Linked DNA regions of Homo sapiens. The protein of the gene in region 3 interacts with the protein of the main gene of each other region in a pairwise test. Each region holds a gene or a part of one and is shown on either strand. Other genes may lie near its edges.

Region 1 (8,806 bases), on a different chromosome or scaffold from region 3:
TGATAAGCACGGTCTCTGCGGAGGTGATGCAGCCGCTGCACGCCAGGCAGTCGTTTAGCGAGACCTTGGCCTTCTCCAGCCTCCGGGTCCCGCCGTCCTACAAGGGAGAAGAACCCGGTGCACAGGGGCCCCCTCTGCACGAGGACATGGAGACAGAGGATAGTGGAGTCCAGCTCATAACCGACAACCAACATGGCTGCTGGCTGGGCTTGTGTGCCGCTGAATTTTTAAAAATTAGGTATGTATTACAAAAATGCACACGCACGCTCTACAGTTTCATAATGCCGTCAAGTCTGCTTCTTGGTACCACTTGGTTAGTGCATCCGAATCACAGGACTAAGGCTTGCCACTGGTATCTCAGCAAAGCAGCAGCCACCCCACTCACCCATGGGGCCCTGGACGGGGTGCTGGCCCCGGTGCACACTCACAGGGCTGTAGGGCAGGAAAATGCCGAAGGTGGGCTCTGAAAGGAGGAGGCGGGAAAGCTGAGGACAAAGGAGGAAAGGACGAAGGCACAGGAAGAGGAGAGCAGAGGGAGGAAGCCTGGGAGCCTGGCCTCCGGTGGGCGGGGCAGAAACAACCGTCAGACTCGCCAAACAGATGCAGGAACAAGGTGTTCCAGTCGGGGGCCTCCGGGACATGCCTCAGCAACTTTTCTTACATGCAAAACGCACCCAGCTCGAGCTCCCCCAACTTCTCCTGCAAAGGCAGGAATGGTTTGAGCAGGGCCAGGGGTGCTGCAGTGGCCCGGAATACAGCCAGAGGAGTAAGGCGACTGGGTGGGAACTGTGTGGGAACCCCTCGCAGCCCAGCTCTCTGCTAGGCCTGTGTATCACAATCTGAGCTCGCCTTGTATTCCTACGTTGGTTCTGCCCCAAGGCACAAAGCCTTGCCTGCCACAGGGTGCTGGGCAGAGGCTGACAGGCTCCTCCAAACCAACTGCCACTGCACCGACAGCCACGCCTACCAGCACCCCAGCACCTTCCAGGGGTTCCCTTCGTTTGTGGGCTGGGCCCCCAGTGCTGGGCTGGAAATCGTCTCTTGGTGCAGTGGTTCATGAGATCAGGCAGACGTTTTTTAGAGTCCAAATGGCAGACAGGTGAATTTTAATAGTTTCTTTTTTTTTTTTTTTTTGAGATGGAGTCTCGCTCTGTCACCCAGGCTAGAGTGCAGTGGTGCGATCTCGGCTCACTGCAAACTCCGCCTCCCAGGCTCACGCCATTCTCCTGCCTCAGCTTCCCGGTAGCTGGGACTACAGGCGCCGGCCACCACGCCCAGCTAATTTTTTTTTTTGTATTTTTAGTAGAGACGGGGTTTCACCGTGTTAGCCAGGATGGTCTCGATCTCCTGACCTCGTGATCCACCCGCCTCGGCCTCCCAAAGTGCTGGGATTACAGGCCTGAGCCACCGCGCCAGGCCCAGTTTCTTTATTTTTTTGAGATGGAGTCTCTGTCTCTCAGGCTGGAGTGCAGTGGAGCAATCTTGGTTCACTGCAGTCCCTATCTCCCAGGTTCAAGTGATTCTCCTGCCTCACCCTCTTGAGTAGCTGGGATTACAGGCATGCGCCACGACACCCAACTAATTTTTGTATTTTTAGTACAGATGGGGGTTGGCCAGGCTGGTCTCGAACTCCTGACCTCAGGTGATCCGCCCCCCCTACCCTGGCCTCCCAAAGTGCTGGGATTACAAGCGTGAGCCACCGCGCCCAGCCTGAATTTTAACAGTTTCATCAGGATCTTATCACTTAGAGAGGAAGTACTATTCTTTAAGAATGAGGGGTCTGGGCTGGGCGCGGTGGCTCACGCCTGTAATCCCAGCACTTTGGGAGGCCAAGGCGGGTGGATCACGAGGTCAGGAGATTGAGACCATCCTGGCTAACACGGTGAAACCCCGTCTCTACTAAAAATACAAAAAACATTAGCTGGGCGTGGTGGTGGCCGCCTGTAGTCCCAGCTACTCGGGAGGCTGAGGCAGGAGAATGGTGTGAACCTGGGAGGCAGAGCTTGCAGTGAGCCGAGATCATGCCACTGCACTCCAGCCTGGGCCATCGAGGGAGACTCTGTATCAAACAAACAAACAAACAAACAAACAAAAGAACGAGGGGTCTGAATTAGAAAATCTTACATGGTTAGAACTAGGGGGAACAGGCAGACGCAGACAGGATCCACCATCTCTGCAAATAGCCCCTCTGCTGAGCAGATCAAGCTGTTTGGCCTGGGTGCTGCTCATTCACCTGCCCCAGGCACCCTGACCCCCAGCCTCCCAGATGGCAGGTGAATTCGACCAGTGGGAAAAGACTGGTGAGACCTGGAGTGTCTCGGGGTCACCGCTCTGTGACGGGAGGAAGCAGAGAAAAGTGTTTCGGATCAGCCGGGCAGGAGAGATGGTGGAGCAGCCTCCTGTGCCTTACTTGGTTAATTTGGAAGTAGCTCCCGTCATCTTCAATGCGAATCTTGGCCACGCCACTTCCCGCCCTTTTTTCCACTTTGACAGGCTTGATGCACTCCTAGAGCAGGAAGAGACCCCAAATCAGCCCCTGTGAGTGGGCGGAGGTTCCCTGGGAGGCCAGGCCTCAAGGATGGCTGCCCAGCCGCACAGCCTGAAGGCTCTGCCAGGAGCCATGCACTCAGGGACTGAGGCTGGTCCCACCGTCTTCTTCCTGCCCCACTGCTCTCACCCAGGGATCGGGTTCCCAACATCCTGCGGCACTGAAGTTCCCAGTGTGCAGGAAGGCCAGTGCTAACAGCGCCTGCAAACTACCCACCTGCGGAGACACCACCAACACTGACCTTCACCCTTCACGTGAACAGGGGGCGTGACCACCACAGAGACCAGAGTTGCACTGCCCATCGAGAGGACGTGTGCTTGGATCTGTTTGGAGACCACCTCCTGCTCAGTGCCCGGGAAACAAGTGGATTTCTCTCTCTTCTCCTTGAGAACCCTGGCAGCCCAGAAAGCCGCCTCCCAGCTCATCCCTGCCGGAAGCGCTCCCAGCAGCCCGCCTCTCGCCCTGCTCAGCTCTGGCCCCGCGGGGCTGTTGGACATGGACAGGCAGGTGCACCCAGAAAAGGGCGCCTGCAGCCTCCCGGGTTCAAGGGTAGCTGTCCGGCCCACCAGGGCGACGTTAAGGACAGCTCTACTGAGGAGCCACTGCGGGGCGTCTAGCGGGCCGCCCCTACTGCCCTCAAATGAGGTGGGGTCCCCACCGCACCCGTTTATGCAGATGCAAAGGCTGTGGCTTGGGGGTCCTGAGGCCTGACAAGGCGTCCTGCGCAGGGGAAGGGGAAGAGGCCCCGGCCCGGGCCCCGCCGCCCTCCAGCTGCGACCCAGGGGTCGGGTTAGGGTTAGGGATGTGTGGGAGCCGCCTCTGCTGCCTCCTCTGGGTTGGGCAGGCCGGCGCGAGCCCGCGACCACGGGACCCTCCCACGCAGCCCGCCCGGACACCATGGGGCACAGGAGCGGGTTGGGGGGCGCCGCCCTCCCTGGCCTCAGTTTCCTTGTTGGTAAGAAGCGGGCCTCAGTGTCTGAGGCCCCGCGCCCGGGTCGATAGAGTCCCTGACGGCCCAGACCGGGCTCCCGGGATTCGGATCTCATTCCTCAGGGGAGGAAGTGGGGCGCAGAGCAATTTCCCTCCGCGCGACAGGGCACCGAGCGCAGCCTCGACCCCGCCCGCCCAGGCCGGCCCACCTGAGACGGCCCGATGAAGTCATCCAGGTCCGTCAGCTGCAGCGCCCCGCTGAAGGGCGACGCCATGACGGCCGCACTGCCGCCGCGCGCAGGTGTCGCTAAACGGCGCGAAACGAAGTGGCTGGTTCCGCCACGCTGCCGGAAAGCGCCCCCAGGACGCATGCGCACCTCGTCCCGGGGCCGGCGCCCTCTGCTGACGAGCCCCGGCGCTGCGGCTCCCCGCCCACCTCGCGGGAACCCGGGACCTACCGCTTCGTCCACCTCCCGCGCGCCCCAGGCCCCGGGTTGGGGTGCAGGGGGCGCAGGGGTTGGTCGGGCCAGCGCCGCAGCTCCGGCCCCGGAGTCTCTCCGCCTTCACAAGGAAGCGGAGGGGATCTGGCTCCGTCCATTTCCTCATCCTCTGCGTACCTGCGGACCAGGTGCTCCCGGATGCAACCCAAGAACCCGGAACGCGCCTGGCACACAGGAGGCGCTCAGCTCGTGTTGGGGAATTCAGGCAGGGAAGAAAGCATGGATAGGCACGAGGTCTCCCCTTCCTGGGGAGCCGCTCCCAGGGCCTCCAGCCCCTTTTTCTGTTATCTTGGAGACCAGTCTGGAAAAGTCCATGCCCCTGGGAGACCCTGAAACAGGACCCTGTGGGCCGACTCGCTTTTCGTTTTTTTCTTTTTTTGAGACAGAGTCTCGCTCTGTCGTCCAGGCTGGAGTGCAATGGCGCGATCTCGGCTCACTGCAAGCTCTACCTCCTGGGTTCAAGCGATTCTCCTGCCTCAGCCTCCCGAGTAGCTGGGACTACAGGCGCCCACCACCACGCCCGGCTAATTTTTTGTATTTTTAGTAGAGACGGGGTTTCACCGTGTTAGCCAGGATGGTCTCGAACTCCTGACCTCGTGATCTGCCCGCCTCAGCTTCCCAAAGTGCTGGGATTACAGGCGTGAGCCACCGCGCCCGACCCCGACTCACTTTTTTTTTTTTCTTTTTTGAGACAGAGTCTCACTCTGTTGCCCAGGCTGGAGTGCAGTGGCGCGATCTCGGCTCACTGCAACCTCTGCCGCCTGGGTTCAAGCAATTCTCCTGCCTCAGCTTCCCGAGTAGCTGGGATTACAGTCACCTGCCATTGCATCCGGCTAATGTTTGTAGTTTTAATTAGAGACTGGGTTTCACCATGTTGGCCAGGCTGGTCTTGAACTCCTTACCTAGTGATCCACCCACCTCAGCCTCCCAAAGCGCTGGGATTACGGGCATGAGCCACCGCGCCTGGCCAGTTACATGTATATCTGGCATCATATGGCCAGTTACATGTCTAATGGCCAGTTTTATGGGGACTTTTCAGGAAACTCCTGGATCGAGGCTGGCATCTTTCCGGCCCAAGCAGGCTCAGCCCATGGAGATCTCACAGTGGCAACATCCTAGGTCCCAGCCTGCGCCGCACCCTCCCCAGGGTTCTAGGCCCTGATTCTGACCACATGTCCCCACCTGGATGCGGCCTGGGCACTCCTGCACCTGCCTGTGGGGTTTGGGCCACCAGCCTGTGTGGCCTTCTCCATCACCTGCAGCTGCTCCTCTCGGCCAGACAGGACTTTCTTCTGCTGCTGCACGGAGGAGCTTTCCCCAGCACCTGGGCCAGGTGAGCTTCCAGGTCCCAGCCATCCCGCCACCTGGCAATACCTGGCCGAGCTTGGAGATTAGGGGCTGAAATATCTTCTATTAAAAATAGAACAGGGGGTCGGGTGCGGTGGCTCACCAGCGCTTTGGGAGGCCCAGGTGGGTGGATCACCCGAGGTCAGGAGTTTGTGACCAGCCCAGCCAACATGGTGAAACCCCGTCTACTAAAAATACAAAAATTAGGCTGGGCGCGGTGGCTCACGCCTGTAATCCCAGCACATTGTGGGGCTGAGGCAGGTGGATCATTTGAGGTCAGGAGTTCAAGACCACCCTGGCCAACATGGTGAAACCCCATCTCTACTAAAAATATAAAAATTAGCCCAGCATGGTGGTTTGTGCCTGGAATCCCAGGTACTAAGGAGGGTGAGGCAGGAGAATCGCTTGAGCCTGGGAGGTGGAGGTTGTGGTGAGCTGAGATAGCACCATTGCACTCTAGCCTGAGCAACAGACTAAGACACTGTCTCAAAAAAAAAAAACTTATCAGGCGTGGTGGCACGTGCCTGTAGTCCTAGCTACTCGGGAGTTTGAGACAGGAGAATCACTTGAACCCAGGAGGCAGAGGTTGCAGTGAGCTGAGATCGCACCATTGTACTCCAGCCTGGGCGACTGAGCGAGACTCCATCTAAAAGAAGAAAGAAAAACAAAACACGAGGCCGGGTGCGATGGCTCACGCCTGTAATCCCAGCACTTCGGGAGGCCGAGGCCGGCAGATCATGAGGTCAGGAGATCAAGACCATCCTGGCTAACACAGTGAAACCCTGTCTCTACTAAAAATATAAAAAAAAAAAAATTATCCGGGTGTAGTGGCGGGCGCCTGTAGTCCCAGCTACTGGGGAGGCTGAGGCAGGAGAATGGTGTGAACCCGGGAGGCGGAGCTTGCAGTGAGCCGAGACGGCACCACTGCACTCCAGCCTGGGCGACAGGGCGAGACCCCGTCTCAAAAAAAAAAAAAAAGAAAAAAAATACGAAAGAAACTTAGTGCCACTGAAATGCAGTGGAGTGGGTTTACAGAAAATGTGAGAGTGAGGAGGGCTGTTGGGATAAGGGAAGGGTCTTTAGGTGAGCTTCCTCTTGCTGCTCCGGGTGGAGCTGGGGCGGGGTTCTTCATTAACTCACAGACATTTCCCTGGAGCCCCTGAGCTCTAGTGCCAACCTCGTGCCTCTGGGGTCCCTGCTTTCTGTTTTGCAGATTGTTTAATCATCGTCATTAGCGAGTATTTACCATGCACTTCCCACGTGCTAGTCCCTGAGCCAGGGCCAGGGAACCCAGGGAGGGCACGGGGGGACACGAGGGCCGGCTGGGGACATAGGGCGAGGCCGGCCGGACCCCAGGTTGCTGTGATGCTGTGACTGTGTATGGGCACCCCCTTTCCCTGGGCTGGAAGGGATGCCTGGTGGAGGCGTCTGCTCTGCGGGCACCCACAGGACCCCCCTTTGCCTACAGCCGCCCCCGGTGGTTGGGTGGGAGGTTGCATGCTAGCATCCTCTTGCTGGTCCGGGGTCATGATACTGGTAGAGCCACCTGGTCCCCTCTCCTGGGTTGGTGTCAGAGCTTCACCCTCGGAAGGGATCATCCTGTGCCTGTCTCCTGAGGCTCCCGTAACAAATGACAACACGCCGGGGTGAAAGCAACAGAGATGCGTCCCCTACTAGCTGTGGAGGCCACACATCTGAGGTCATGGTGTCATTCACCGTGCTCCCTCTGGAGGCTGCAGGGAGGACCCTTCCTGCTTTCTCCAGCTTCCAGGGGCTCCAGTTGTCCTTGGTCTGTGACTGTGTCGCTCCAGCACATTTTTTTTTTCTTGATACAGTGTCTTGCTCTCTTCCCAGGCTGGAGTGCAGTGGTGTGATCACAGCTCACTATAGCCTCAGCCTCCCGGGCTCAAGAGATCCTCCGGCCTCAGCCTCCCAAGTAGCTGGGACTACAGGTGTGCGCCACCATGCCTGGCTATTTTTACTGTTATTATTATTATTATTATTCTTTTGAGATGGAGTCTCACTCTGTTGCCCAGGCTGGAGTGCAGTGGCACCATCTCAGCTCACTGCAAGCCCCACCTCCTGGGTTCACGCCATTCTCCTCTCTCAGCTTCCCGAGTAGCTGGTACTACAGGCGCCCACCACCACACGTGGCTAATTTTTTTGTATTTTTACTAGAGACGGGGTTTCACCATGTGTTAGCCAAGATGGGCACAATCTTCTGACCTCGTGATCTGCCGGCCTCGGCCTCCCAAAGTGCTGGGATTATAGGCATGAGTATTATTATTATTTTTTGAGACAGAGTCTCACTCTGTCACCCAGGCTGGAATGCAGTGGCACAAGCTTGGCTCACTGCAACCTCTGCCTTCCGGGTTCAAGCAATTCTGCCTCAGCCTCCCAAGTAGTTGGGATTACAGGCTCCTGCCACCACGCCTGGCTAATTTTTGTATTTTCAGTAGAAATGGGGTTTCACCATGTTAGCCAGGATGGTCTTGATCTCCTGACCTCATGATTTGCCCACCTCAGCCTTCCAAAGTGCGGGGATTACAGGCGTGAGCCACTGCACCCGGCCTTTATTATTATTTTTTTTTGAGACGGAGTTTCGCTCTTGTTGCCCAGACTGGAGTACAGTGGCAGGATCTTGGCTCACTGCAGCCTCTGCCTGCAGGATTCAAGCGATTCTCCTGCCTCAGCCTCCTGAGCAGCTGGTACTACAGGAGTCCATCACCAGGCCTAGCTAATTTTTATATTTTTATTAAAGACGGGGCTGGGCGCGTTGGCTCACACCTGTAATCCCAGCACTTTGGGAGGCCGAGGCCGGCGGATCACAAGGTCAGGAGATCGAGACCATCCTGGCTAACGCGGTGAAACCCCGTCTCTACTGAAAATAGAAAAAATTAGCTGGGCGTGGTGGCGGGTGCCTGTAGTCCCAGCTACTCAGGAGGCTGAGGCAGGAGAATGGCGTGAACCTGGGAGGTGGAGCTTGCAATGAGCTGAGATCGCACCACTGCACTGCAGCCTGGGCAACAGAGTGAGACTCTGTCTCAAAAAAAAAAAAAGACAGGGTTTCACCATGTTGGCCAGGCTGGTCTCGAACTCCTGGGCTCAAGTGATCCTTCCACCTCGGCCCCCCAGTGCTGGGATTACAGCGTGAGCCACTGGGCCTGGCCTGGTTGTATCTTTTGGGAGGCTGCCCTTCAGCCACCACAGCCCTCATTTCAGGTTCTTGTGGGACCCTCGACAAAGAGATGCTTTCCACCTCCTAACCGGGTATGTGGCTCAGGGAGGCTGTGTGGGGGCTGGGCTGGCCCGCAAGGGGCGGGCGGGGTGGAGGTGGGGCCTGTGAGTCCGGTGGACGGGATGCAGCCCAGGTTGGCTGAGGGCCGGCAGGTGGTGCTGCGGAGCCCACGGGGGCCGGCAGGTGCCACAACCCCGTAAAGGGGGAATAAACCCCCCTCAGGTCAGGAGTTCCTGGGGAGGA
Region 2 (8,470 bases), on a different chromosome or scaffold from region 3:
GGGAGGCGTGCTTGAGCCTGGGAGGCAGAGCTTCCGGTGCCCCAGATGACTCCACTGCACTCCAGCCTGGGCGGCAGAGTGAGGCCATCTCAAAAAAAAAAAAAAGGAAAACTAAATATATTCACTGTAAGGGCATTTTGCATCTTTAAATGACCCACAAATCTGGCATGCATCAGCTGCTCTGCCTGTAGGTTCCTTCCCAGTGTTTGTCCAGAGGTGTATTTCCACACAGCGCTAGTCACGGCATACGTGGAAAACGTGGAAACCCTTCATGGATGTTGTCAGTTGGTCTATATTTTCTTTCTTTTTTTTTTTTTTGAGATGGAGTTTCACTTTTGTTGCCCAGGCTGGAGTGCAATGGCGCGATCTTGGCTCACTGCAACCTCCGCCTCCTGGGTTCAAGCAATTCTCCTGCCTCAGCCTCCCAAGTAGCTGGGATCACAGGCGTGCACCACCACGCCCAGCTAATTTTGTATTTTTAGTAGAGATGGTTTCTCCGTGTTGGCCAGGCTGGTCTCGAACTCCTGACCTCACGTGATCCACCCGCTTCGGCCTCCCAAAGTGCTGGGATTACAGGCGTGAGCCGCCACGCCCGGCCTTTGTCCATATTTTCTACATGGCTTCTGTAAACAGCTGACTAGGAGTCTGTGTGAATATCTTCATAGGTTCTGCTGTGACACTACTTGCTCGTGAGCATCTCCAGGTGTAAACAGCATCAGCTTCCCCCATTTTCCTTTAAAATCGCACATGTGGACGGACACCACGGGGACCCTGGACCCTGGGGAGCCCCGTCCTCACCCTTCTCACCAGGATGGCTGCTTGGTAGAGAGTGAGTTTGCAAAGTTGGCATTTGTTTAGTACAGAAGTTATCAGGTGTTCTGGCTTTAGAATCCCTTTATATATATATATATATACATATATTTAAGTGACAGGGTCTCACTCTGTTGCCCAGGCTGGAATGTGGTGGTACAATCAAAGTTCCCTGTAGCCTCGGCCTCCTGGGCTCATGGGATCTTCCCGTCTCAGCGTCTTAAAGCGCCGGGACCACAGGTGTGCACCACTGCCACCGGCTCTCAAGATTGCCACGCAGGGAGTTGCAGTGGGGGAAGGGGTTCCTGGGACTTTGAACGCTCCACCTCCCTCCTCTCCACAGTCCCCCAACCCCACCTCTCTAACGGGGTGGACGGCCGCCTCTTTCCATCCTTCGCTTGGCGCAGGGTGGGGAGAGTGACAGGTCTCCTTCCCTCATCTCGGCAGCTGCCATTTCATCGCTTACATAACGTGGGAGAAACATCCACCCACCCCCAGGCCTGTGTGAACATCACCACGGGGCCTTCTCCACTCTTCAGTTTTGTTAGTTACTTGATGTGCAGGGCTTTTTGTTGTAACTAGTGGGGGACGTGTGGTGGGGTGGGCTTCTGCCATCTCATTCAGGACCAGAACTTCAGTTTTCATCCCTATCTGTTCCCCCACCCCTTTGGAGATGGGGTCTCACTCTGTCACCCAGGCTGGAGAGCGGTGGTGCCATCACGGCTCACTGCAGCCTCCACCTCCTGCAGCCTCCACCTCTTGGGCTCAAGTGATCCTCCTGCCTCGGCCTCCCAAGCTCCTGGGACTACAGGCGTGTGCCACTGTGCTTGGCAGGGTCCATTCTTTTCCTCACACTTTATTTATTGAAGAGCCCAGGCCGTTTACCCTGCAGAGTCGGAATCTGTACAGGAGGGGCAGCCACACGAGTTCCCCGGTTTACTCTGAACTTAGGTGGCTTGAGGGCCCCAGTTAGACTGCGGCCACCGTTTGCCGGGCTCCAGATGGGACGTCCTTTCTATCAGAAGGCTCACAGTATCTCCTTTCCCGTTTCTTCCCATGTGAACATTGTTGCTGCTGAACACCTGAATATGTTAATCACTGGGGGCTTGCAAGATGGCAGTGTGCTAATTCCATCATCTAGTCAGTTAGCAGGAATAACTTAGGACCACGCCCTGCACCATATCAGCTATGTGGTGATCCCATTCACACAGGAAAGGTGGGACAAATGCTGGGGGTGGGCCGGGTGTGCTGTCTCACACCTGTCATCCCAGCACTTTGGGAGGCCCAGGCAGGCGGATCACGAGGTCAGAGATTGAGACCATCCTGGCCAACACGGTGAAACCCCGTCTCTACTAAAAATACAAAAAAATTAGCCAGGTGTGGTGGTGCATGCTTGTAATCCCAGCTACTTGGGAGGCTGAGGCAGGAGAATCACTTGAACCCAGGAGGCGGAGGTTGCAGTGAGCCGAGATCGCACCATTGCACTCCAGCCTGGCGACAGAGCGAGACTCCGTCTCAAAAATCAATCAGTCAATCAAGTGTCATCACTGAATGTTTGTGTGTGAACGTGGGGATTGGTCCTGCCCCATGCTCCCTCCTGAATCTCACTCCTGACCTCAGTTGCTGCACCTTGAGGTGTTTTCATGTGGGCTCTTGTGTCCTGACCCCGGCGGTTGTGGCCTCTTTGCTGTCTGGGAGTCAGGATTTTTCACACTCATGTCCTGCTCCAGACCTGGAATCAGCCAAGTCTCCAAGAAGCCCTGCTTTCTTTTCCTGCAAGACGGTATTTCAAGACCCGCCATGCGGCAGCGGGTTGGTCATGGTTACTGGGTTGGTCGTTGTTACTGGGTGTTTTCGTGGAGATACAGCCATACGCACAGGTGTGTTCACAAATGTTAATTCTAAAGGTCAAACACCCGGCCAGGCATAAGGGCTCAGCGGTAATCCCAGCACTTTGGGAGACCAAGACTGGTGGATCACCTGAGGTCAGGAGTTTAAGACCAGCCTGAGCAACAGGGTGAAACCCCATCTCTACTAAAAATGCGAAAATTAGCCGGGCATGGTGGCGCACACCTATAGTCCCAGCTAGTCGGGAGACAGACACGAGAATTGCTTGAACCTGGGACATGGAGGTTGCAGTGAGCAGAGATGGCGCTGCTGCACCCCTGCCTGGGTGACAGAGTGACACCCTGTCTCAAAAATGAATAGATAAATAAAGATAAAACACCTGCTCCTCTTGGTGTCTCCAGTTTGGATTTGGCCTGTGTAGCCTCTTCCTTCGCCTGTTGGTGGATTTGGCCTGCACGGATTCTGTGTGGCCTCTTCCTTCCCCTGTTGGTGGATTTGGCCTGCACGGATTCTGTGTGGCCTCTTCCTTCCCCTGTTGGTGGATTTGGCCTGCACGGATTCTGTGTGGCCTCTTCCTTCCCCTGTTGGTGGATTTGGCCTGCACGGATTCTGTGTGGCCTCTTCCTTCCCCTGTTGGTGGATTTGGCCTGCACGGATTCTGTGTGGCCTCTTCCTTCCCCTGTTGGTGGATTTGGCCTGCACGGATTCTGTGTGGCCTCTTCCTTCCCATGTTGGTGGATTTGGCCTGCATGGATTCTGTGTGGCCTCTTCCTTTCCATGTTGGTGTCCTTTTTTCCATGCCAGGAATCCTGGTTCTCAAGGGCGGGGTTGTTGGCACGAGCGTGATGCAGACTGCCTTTGCTGCCTTTCTCTTGCCCAGGGCTGAACATGGAGCTGGAAGACATTGCAAAGCTGAAGAGTAAGTGTTGCCCTCCCCGCCTCCTTGCAGCTGGGTGGGGCCTCCTCCTTGCGAGGAGGTGGGTGACACCTCCTCGACCCACAGTGATCCTGCTGCGCCTGGAGGGGGCCATCGATGCTGTTGAGCTGCCTGGAGACGACAGCGGTGTCACCAAGCCAGGGAGGTGAGAGGCGGGGAGCCAGCCCCTTCACTGCAGGCCCAGCCTAGAGCTAGAAACGGGCCATGGTGCAGTCCTGGGCTGTCACATCACGAGTGAGGCCTGTTTTCAGGCCTGTTTTCCCTTTTTGAGACCTGGGAGGAGCACCTGCTTTGCATGATCTGGTTGCTGAGATGTTGAGAGGAGCAGCACACACTCCCACGGGACAGCACACAGCCCCCCACGGAACGGCACACACACCCATGGAACAGCACACACACTCCCACGAACAGCACACACACTCCCACGAACAGCACACACACTCCCACGGAACAGCACACACACCCACGGAACGGCACACACACCCACGGAACAGCACACACACTCCCACGGAACAGCACACACACCCACGGAACGGCACACACTCCCACGGAACGGCACACTCTCCCACGGAACAGCACACTCTCCCACGGAACAGCACACACACTCCCACGGAACAGCACACACACCCACGGAACGGCACACACTCCCACGGAACAGCAGACTCTCCCACGGAACAGCACACACACTCCCACAGACAGCACACACACACCCACGGAACAGCACACTCTCCCACGCGGGGCCGCTGGGTTTCCTGCAGTTTCTCCTCCTCCAGGCCTTTCCCTGGACCCTGGTCCAGTCCGTCATTTGAGCACAGGTGCCTGTTAGAACGAGACCTTCTTGTTAGGACGATGAGTGTCCCAGCCACCACCTCTTTTGGACTCCGGGAGGCCTGGAACGTTCTGAACGCTCCGTGGGGCTCCAGTCTTCTCCGCAGCCAGGGCAGCAGGGTTTGCTGTCTGTCCTGCAGGCAGATGAGGAGTCAGGGCTGGGGCCTGTGTGGGGGCTCTCCTGAGCGCACAGCCGCCGAGGTGGAGCGTGTTCTGCCTGAGCGCCGACCTGGTCGGGGGAATCCCAGTTGCTTCCAGGTGGAGCCACTGTCCTCAGCGTAATGCTCAAGGCTCTGGCCTGGCTCCTCGGCCACCCTGCACCCTCAGGGTCCCCTCCTGTAGCTTCTGCTGCCCCATCACTGTCACTCTCCAAAGCTTTGGGGACTCTGCCCAGAGCCACCGCCTCCCAGAAGCCCCTGACAACCTCTTGACGACCCCCTAGTGACCCCATCCCTCCCCTCTGACGGCGGCCCCTGCTCTGAGGCGGCTTCTTTTCCTCGGTGCTGTTCTCGTGCTGGCCAGGCCTCCTCTCCCCACCTGGAGGCTCCTGAGGGCGGAGGCCTCTCACCTCCAATGCTGGCGTCCCCTGGAGGGCTGAATTTGTTTCCGAGGGAAGGAAACTTCCACAGTTGTTGCCTTCAGTTCCAAAGCTGCAGCCTGATTTCCCCCTCCAGGCTCGAGCCTGTTTTCTTCTCGGCAGCTACATCTTTGACCAGTGTCGTCCCCCCTCAGGCCCGAGCCTGCCTTCTTCTCCTCAGTTCCCAAAGCTGCAGTCTGGTCCCCCCGCCAGGCTCGAGCCTGCCTTCTTCTCCTCGGCAGCTACATCTTTGAGCTGTTTGCTGAAGCCCAGATCACGTTTCAGACCAAGGGCTGCATCCTGGACTCGCTGGACCAGATCATCCAGCACCTGGCAGGACGTGAGTGCTGGCACGGGGTCTTTGGTGCGGGCAAATGTGGCGTAGGGGGTGCAGCAGGCCTCCATCTTGGCAGTCAGGGCTCCCCTGGCCGTCACCTGGCCGTCAGCAGGAACAGGCCCACAGAACCTCATCTTCTGATCGGGGCGTGGAGGCGTTAGTGCCACTTGCCAGCTGCCGTAGAGCCTGTCCCAGTTCTGCAGCTGGCGGCTTCGTCCTACAGCCTCATCCCATTATTCTGCTTTTGAGAAAGAGCAGCCCAAGGCCCTAGCTGGCTTGTGGGGCCTCTGGCTTCTCCACACCACCCCGAGTTCTGCTTCTCAGAGTTGTGGGGTCCAGAGGCTTTGCCCAGAGGCGGTGTCCCCATGGGCTGCTCTGGTTTGAGACGCCGGGCCCAGCGGGGTCTCTCCTCTGCTGCGCTCCCGGGTGCTGGGGAGGGTGGCTTTTGCTGCTTCAACCCTTAGGCGACCATAGAGCCTCTTTTCAAGTCCCACTGACCCCCTTGGAGACTCTGTCCCTGCCTGGCTTCTCTCCTGGCTGCTGGGAAGAGCAGGCGAACTGCCCGCCCTGAATGGATGCTGCGCTCCACCCTGGGCCCCCCATTGGGCAGGAGATGGAGCTTGGCAGTCGGGCTGAGCGGGCTCATGCTGGAAGGGCCGGGGCTGGGGTCGGGGCCTCCCCTGCCTGCAGTGTGGGTGTCAGCGCCCTGCTGCCCTCCAGGTGCTGGAGTGTTCACCAACACGGCCGGACTGCAGAAGCTGGCGGACATTATCCAGGTGGGGCCTGCTCCTCTGTGGCATCTCCTTCCCTGATGGAAGCCGGGCGGGTGCCTTCTCCTGCTGTATTAGTTAACTGATTCTAGACTTGGGGATGGGAGAAAGGCCCCTACACCACCTGTTTCTGATTGGCAAACTCTCGGCTCCTTTCCAGTGCCCTAAACCCACACTGGGCCTCCTGCAGGGATGGGGGAGGACGAGGTCTGGTGGCACATGCCCAGGGTGATGCTGGTGAGGGAGGACGCAAAGGACAGTGGGGGCCGGGGAGCCGCTCCTGCCCTGTCCGGGCCCTCAGGCCAGGGGGGACCCACTGCTGGCAGCCCCAGCAGCCCCAGCTGCACGCAGATGAAGAGCTCTGGACACACGCGGCTTCCTGAACAGCTTCTCCAGGGACAGACAAATGGGGACCCTGCAGGTTCCCGGCAGGGGTGTCCCTGGGAGCCCATGATTGGGGGTGCGACCCTGGCCCCCTTCTCATTGGCCCCGTCCTGTCCTGCAATGCCCGTCCCATGTGAGGTCTGCTTCTGGCTCCATGCCTATGGCAGCACCTGCTTTCCCTGGCGTAGAGGTGCTTGTCCGGTTTGTGGAGGGCACGCCCCATTTTGGGTGCTCTGGGCACGTTGCCTCTCCGGGGCCTCGGTGGCTTTTTTAGAAGCAGACTCAGAAGTCCCTGACTGGGGAAGCCAAGGCACAGGTGGCTGTGTGGAGCCCTGTGAGGCCTCCTCTGTGCTGCCCACGCTGTACCTGCTGGCCACACGAGATCATGGCAGGGTTAGGCAGGGCTGCCCAGCGCTATGACAGCTTCATGAGTGTCCATCTGGCCTGTGGGGTGCTTGAGCTGGGGGAGGCCGCAGAAGAACCCTGGGATGCATGGCTGGCCTGTGCATGCTGCTGGGCATGGAGCTGCAGATCCCGGAACAAGCAGGCACTGCCTTCTCCTTCACAGACGCAGCTCTGAGCGGGGGCGAGACCTGGGCAGGGACCAGGTGGGGTGGGCACAGGGTGGTGGGGCCCAGGCTCAGCCCTCCCTCCACTGTGGCCGTCTCTGTGGCCAGTGACGCCACAGCCTGTGTCTTCTCTGTGCGGTAGCTGGGGCTGGAAGGACAGCACTGCCTTGTCCTCCCAACTCCTCCCCAAAGGCACGGTGGGCATCCCAGGCCCAGACCCCTCTGTCTGTGGCTCCTGCCTGCCAAGGGCTGCTGTGCTGTCCCGCATGGAGTGTGGTTGGCTCTTCAAGCAGGAGGCCGTGCACCTATCAGGCGGACCTGCTTCCATGTCCCTGATGGGTCACTGCAAAGCACCTCCAGCACATGGCCAGGCGAGGTAGCCCTGCAGCCCAGGGCCTGGAGGGCAGGTGTGAGCTGGCCCGGGCCTGTCCCTCCCTGGAATACAGCTTCCCAGGCTCCCACTTATGGAGAAGTCTCCTCCACACTATGGAACTGAATCCTAGAATGTGGCTTCTGAGGTTCCTACACTCGAACTGAATCCTGGAATGCGGCTTCCAAGGCTTCCAGCTATGGAGAAGACTCCACACTCTGGAACCGAATCCTGGAACGCGGCCTCCCAGGCCCCCAGCTATGGAGAAGACTCCACACTCTGGAACCGAATCCTGGAACGCGGCCTCCCAGGCCCCCAGCTATGGAGAAGACTCCACACTCTGGAACCGGATCCTGGAACGCGGCCTCCCAGCCTCCCACTTAAGGAGAAGTCTCCACACTCTGGAACCGGATCCTGGAACGTGGCCTCCCAGGCCCCCACTTAAGGAGAAGACTCCACACTCTGGAACCGAATCCTGCACACTCCATCGGTTTGGAATTTCCTTTGGCTGCTGCTCTAAGTAGCCGCTGGTGGATGACTCAGCTTCTGCCAGCCCTCGGGTGCCTGGAGGATGAGGGACTGCACACAGTGCTCACCCGCGTTGGCTCCTGAGCCCCTGCAGGTGTGGGCGGTGCCCATAGGGCTGGTGCTGGGTTGGGCCTGCAGCCCTGAGTCACAGGTGACCCTGGGGGCAGAGTGGGGCCAGTGGCCCCAGGAAGAGGATGTGGGATGCACAGCTCAGCTGGAGGCGAACTCCAGGCAGGGTCAGGCCGTGTGCTCGGAAGTCAGGGCTTAGCTGGAGGCAAACTCTGGGCAGTGCTGGCCCGTGTTGGGGAACCAGTTGCCCCTGGGCCCCCGTGAGACTGCTGGGTCCTCATCCCTCTCTGCCTGAGGCCGGAGCTGCCCTGGGCTGAGGCACAGGGGGATTTGTGGTGGTGTTTTTTTGAGAAAGGGTCTCGCTTTGTCACCCCGGCTGGAGTGCAGGGGCTTGATCACAGCTCACTGCAGCCTCAACCTCCTGGGCCCAAGTGATCCTCTTG
Region 3 (4,069 bases):
CGACTCGAGCACTCATTCTGCTCCCTATGTTATTTCAAGGGCCTCCAAGGGCAGCTTTTCTCAGAATCCTTGATCAAAAAGAGCCAGTGGGCCTGCCTTAGGGTACCATGCAGGACAATTCAAGGACCAGCCTTTTTACCACTGCAGAAGAAAGACACAATGTGGAGAAATCTTAGGACTGACATCCCTTTACTCAGGCAAACAGAAGTTCCAACCCCAGACTAGGGGTCAGGCAGCTAGCTACCTACCTTGCCCAGTGCTGACCCGGACCTCCTCCAGGATACAGCACTGGAGTTGGCCACCACCTCTTCTACTTGCTGTCTGAAAAAACACCTGACTAGTACAGCTGAGATCTTGGCTTCTCAACAGGGCAAAGATACCAGGCCTGCTGCTGAGGTCACTGCCACTTCTCACATGCTGCTTAAGGGAGCACAAATAAAGGTATTCGATTTTTAAAGATATGTAGCTTCTCACTCTCTGCCTCACGATAGGGCAGGGAAGGGGAAAGTCAGGGTCAAGACCTAGTGAGTAGGTGTTCTGGTCATGCTTCCTACATTTTTTTTTTTTTTGGAGATGGAGTCTCACTCTGTCTCTCAGGCTGTAATGCAGTGGCGCGATCTTGACTCACTGCAACCTCCGCCTCCCAGTTTCAAGTGATTTTTTTTTTTTTTTTTTTTTGAGACGGAGTCTCGCTCTATATCACCCAGGCTGGAGTGCAGTGGTGTGATCTCGGCTCACTGCAAGCTCCGCCTCCCGGGTTCACGCCATTCTCCTGCCTCAGCCTCCCGAGTAGCTGGGACTACAGGCGCCCGCCACCACACCCGGCTAATTTTTGTATTTTTAGTAGAGACGGGGTTTCACTGTGTTAGCCAGGAGGTCTCGATGTCATGACCTTGTGATCCATCCGCCTCGGCCTCCCAAAGTGCTGGGATTACAAGCTTTACAGGCGTGAGCCACCGCGCCCGGCTCAAGTGATTCTTGTGTCTCAGCCTCCCAAGTAGCTGTGATTAAAGGCGTATGCCACCACACCTGGCTAATTTTTGTATTTTTAGTGGAGATGGGGTTTCACCATGTTGGCCAGTCTGGTCTTGAACTCCTGACCTCCACTGATCCATGCGCCTCGGCCTCCCAAAATGCTGGGATTACAGGCGTCAGCCACCATGCCCAGCTTAATTTTTTTTTTTTTTTAATTATTTGTAGAGATGGGTTCTTGCTATACTGCCAGGGCTAGTCTCAAACTCCTAGCCTCAAGTGATCCGCCTGCCTCAGCCTCCTGAAGTGTTGGGGTTACAGGCATGTGCTACTGTCCTGGTTACCCTGAAAAATTTTTGGCCAATCCCTGTCATTGTTATTCCAGTGATGCCTCTGGTTATATGAGGCATATGTGGGGTGGGGGAAATATCTGACAGCCCCATTACCAAAAGAAATCTTTATTCTTCAGCAGGTAGACAACATCTGCCAGCCCTGGTCCTCAGGGCCACACTCATATGCACTCACCCCTCAGCAGCATATCGCCCCTTTTCTGACATATAAATGCAAGAGACCCAGGACCCTAGATCTTTCTTCAAACGCAAGTGTCTCACACACACTTATTTTACAAATCCACTAGAAATATGGACTCTTATGTTCTTTGTACAGCCATGCAACAGAGGCCTAGCATTTGTGCTGTGTCTGTGGGAAAGGCAGTCAGAGACCAGTGGTTTCCCTGCTTTGGGGAAGATGGCTCAACAGTTAGTAATCCCAGGTTAGATTGTCAGAACAGTCTAGGCCAGGACTGAGGGCTCAGCTGCCAGGGCTCCCCAACAGAAACCTGTAGGCAAAAAGAAAGTTGGCAGCATTAGTGATGAGGCTCATCTTGGTCCCATCTCTCCCCACGACCTAGAAACTCACCACTCCCCTCTGGCTGACACTGCTTCCTTGCGCACCAGTCTCTTCTTGTCATCCAGGGGTTTGGCTAAGGCCCGAATCACCTGTGGTTTGTACGGCAGCAGCTGTGGAGTCAGAGGATATAATCAACCTTGCTCATCCAAGGCAACTGAAAGTACCGCTTTTTTGATTCTGTACAACTAATATTCTGAGGAAAGCAAAACATCTTTAGTGATTCCAAGGGATGTTAAGTGGCAGGATGGCCTTTCTGTTACCTTCTGGGCCCAAGGAAAAGAATCCTTGGGCCCAGAATTACAAGATCTGTACCTTGTAATTCAGATCTCAATTACACACCAGGGTGGCCAAGCCCACCTGACTAAGGCAAAAAGGTACTTATGTGTCTCTTGAGATGTTCCCAGGCCAGGGAAGGACACCTGAGGTACTTACCACAGGGGTGGGCAGGCGAGTGAGAGCATGCATGCACTGCAGTGCGGCGATCCGGACAGCCTGGAACACAACCACAAGGAGGTGAGAGCATGCCCAGGGAGAGATGCTGGTGCCTAAGAGTTGCTGGGGCTCAACGCACCATGGAAGGGCTAGAGCTGAGGTTCAGAAACTTGGTGACGAGGGTGTCCACGTGAAGACTCATGACTTGGGGTGCTTCCAGTAGAAGAGGCTGAAGGCAGCTGAGGGTGGAGAGCTGCACCACACAGTCAGGGCAGGACAGGGCCTCCAGCAGCAAGGAAAGAAGCTAAGGGGCAATGGGCAAGGTAGGGGATGGCCACATCATGAAGATCCTGGTTCTTGTTCCCTCCCCTTTCTAGCCCCATCTGGGGAAGAATAGCTTTGTCCTTTGCTTAGAAGCTCTGCCTGTGGGACTTACCGTGGGCAGCTCTGGCAAGAGTACAGGCTTGGGCAGCCTGTTAAGTACATGAGAAAGACCCTTCAAGTAGTTTGGCTTCACATCTGTAAAAAATGGAAAGGCTTAGGGGAGAAATTGGACTTAGATATATAGCTTGAGAAATCAATTCCAATCTGTGGTGAGGCTGAGACATCAGCCTACAAACGGGTGAAAGAGCCCTTCACGCTCAGAATAAGCAAGATACGCCCATGAAAGGAAGAAGTGGGACAAGAATCTAGAAGTTTAGTCTTCTAGGCACAGACCACAATATAGCTCTAAAGAAGCAAGCGGGCCCTAAATTATCTTAGGGAATGTGGCCAAGCAAAGGAGAGATGTGTATATGTGGGGACCTTCTTTCAGACTCCTCACCTTGGGGAGCAGCATGGAAGCCCTGGACCAAAGCAGGCACATTATCTGTGAAGAACCGCTGGCGGAACATGATCCGCACTTCGGCATGGCCAGCACGAGTCAGCACATCAGTGCAGTCAGACATGAGCAGAGAGAAGCCATCAGCTGCTGCTGGACCTAATTCTGGGTCACTCAGGAGGCCCATGAGCTGGAGAAAAAAGAGCCTTTGAGGTACATCAGGGAAGAAGAATCTTAAGTGCCAAAGATAAGGATGGGGCCGGGTGTGGTGGCTCATGCCTGTAATCCTAGCACTTTGGGAGGCCAAGGCAGGTGGACTGCTTGAGTCTAGGAGTCTGGGCAACATGGCCAAACCCAGTTCTTACAAAAAATACAAACATTAGTTGGGTGTGGTGGGGTGCCCCTGTAGTCCCAGCTACTTGCGAGGCTGAAGTGGGAGGATCACTTGAGCCTACGGAGGTTGAGGCTGGAGTGAGCTGTGATTGCACTACTGTACTCCAGCCTGGGTGACAGAGTAAGACCCTGTCTCCAAAAAGAAAAAAGAAAAGAAAACAAAAAACACACAGGGGAGGATGGAAGTCCTTGGGAGGAATAGGAGCAACCAGAAAGTTTGTTTAGGTCCTGGGTTCTTCTGTCTCCAGAAAGGACGTACCCGGGCTGTAAGGCAGGAGCTGAGAGGATGGTATCTGAGCACTAGGGCCTTTGTTACCTGTAATTGGAGACAGAGAGAGCAATTGGGGAATGACACTCAAACCCGAGAACCCTGAGACATAGATGTTTATGGTTTAGGGTCAAACAGGGACATTTTATTTAACCAGACATAATTGCCTCTCTGGCTAACCAGACTCCACTCCAACTCCTTACCCAGAGAAGAAGAGTGAAGGCCTGACTACGACAGGGCCCAGAGCCCAGGCCAGCCTCCACTTTGTCCACAGC

The links. Proteins that work in one complex are often made in the same cells at the same time.
Region 1: the proteins of MMS19 (region 3) and CIAO3 interact in binary tests that used the Homo sapiens proteins (3 or more experiments, as listed by UniProt).
Region 2: the proteins of MMS19 (region 3) and RTEL1 interact in binary tests that used the Homo sapiens proteins (3 or more experiments, as listed by UniProt).

What each region holds. Positions count from the first base shown.
Region 1 is NC_000016.10:737,233-746,038, forward strand, and holds the start of CIAO3 (cytosolic iron-sulfur assembly component 3), read right to left. Parts: upstream 3,766-8,806; 5' UTR 3,754-3,765; coding exon 3,688-3,753; intron 2,872-3,687; exon of another isoform or gene 2,790-2,871; intron 2,507-2,789; coding exon 2,411-2,506; intron 98-2,410; coding exon 1-97.
Region 2 is NC_000020.11:63,674,607-63,683,076, forward strand, and holds part of RTEL1 (regulator of telomere elongation helicase 1), read left to right. Parts: intron 1-3,037; exon of another isoform or gene 3,038-3,538; coding exon 3,539-3,577; exon of another isoform or gene 3,578-3,661; coding exon 3,662-3,740; exon of another isoform or gene 3,741-3,769; intron 3,770-5,242; coding exon 5,243-5,340; intron 5,341-6,057; coding exon 6,058-6,113; intron 6,114-8,470. UniProt on the Homo sapiens protein: A probable ATP-dependent DNA helicase implicated in telomere-length regulation, DNA repair and the maintenance of genomic stability. Acts as an anti-recombinase to counteract toxic recombination and limit crossover during meiosis.
Region 3 is NC_000010.11:97,456,910-97,460,978, forward strand, and holds the end of MMS19 (MMS19 nucleotide excision repair protein homolog), read right to left. Parts: coding exon 3,998-4,069; exon of another isoform or gene 3,911-3,997; intron 3,843-3,910; coding exon 3,786-3,842; intron 3,324-3,785; coding exon 3,137-3,323; intron 2,833-3,136; coding exon 2,750-2,832; intron 2,618-2,749; coding exon 2,453-2,617; intron 2,374-2,452; coding exon 2,314-2,373; intron 1,992-2,313; coding exon 1,891-1,991; intron 1,811-1,890; coding exon 1,783-1,810; 3' UTR 1,415-1,782; downstream 1-1,414. UniProt on the Homo sapiens protein: Key component of the cytosolic iron-sulfur protein assembly (CIA) complex, a multiprotein complex that mediates the incorporation of iron-sulfur cluster into apoproteins specifically involved in DNA metabolism and genomic integrity.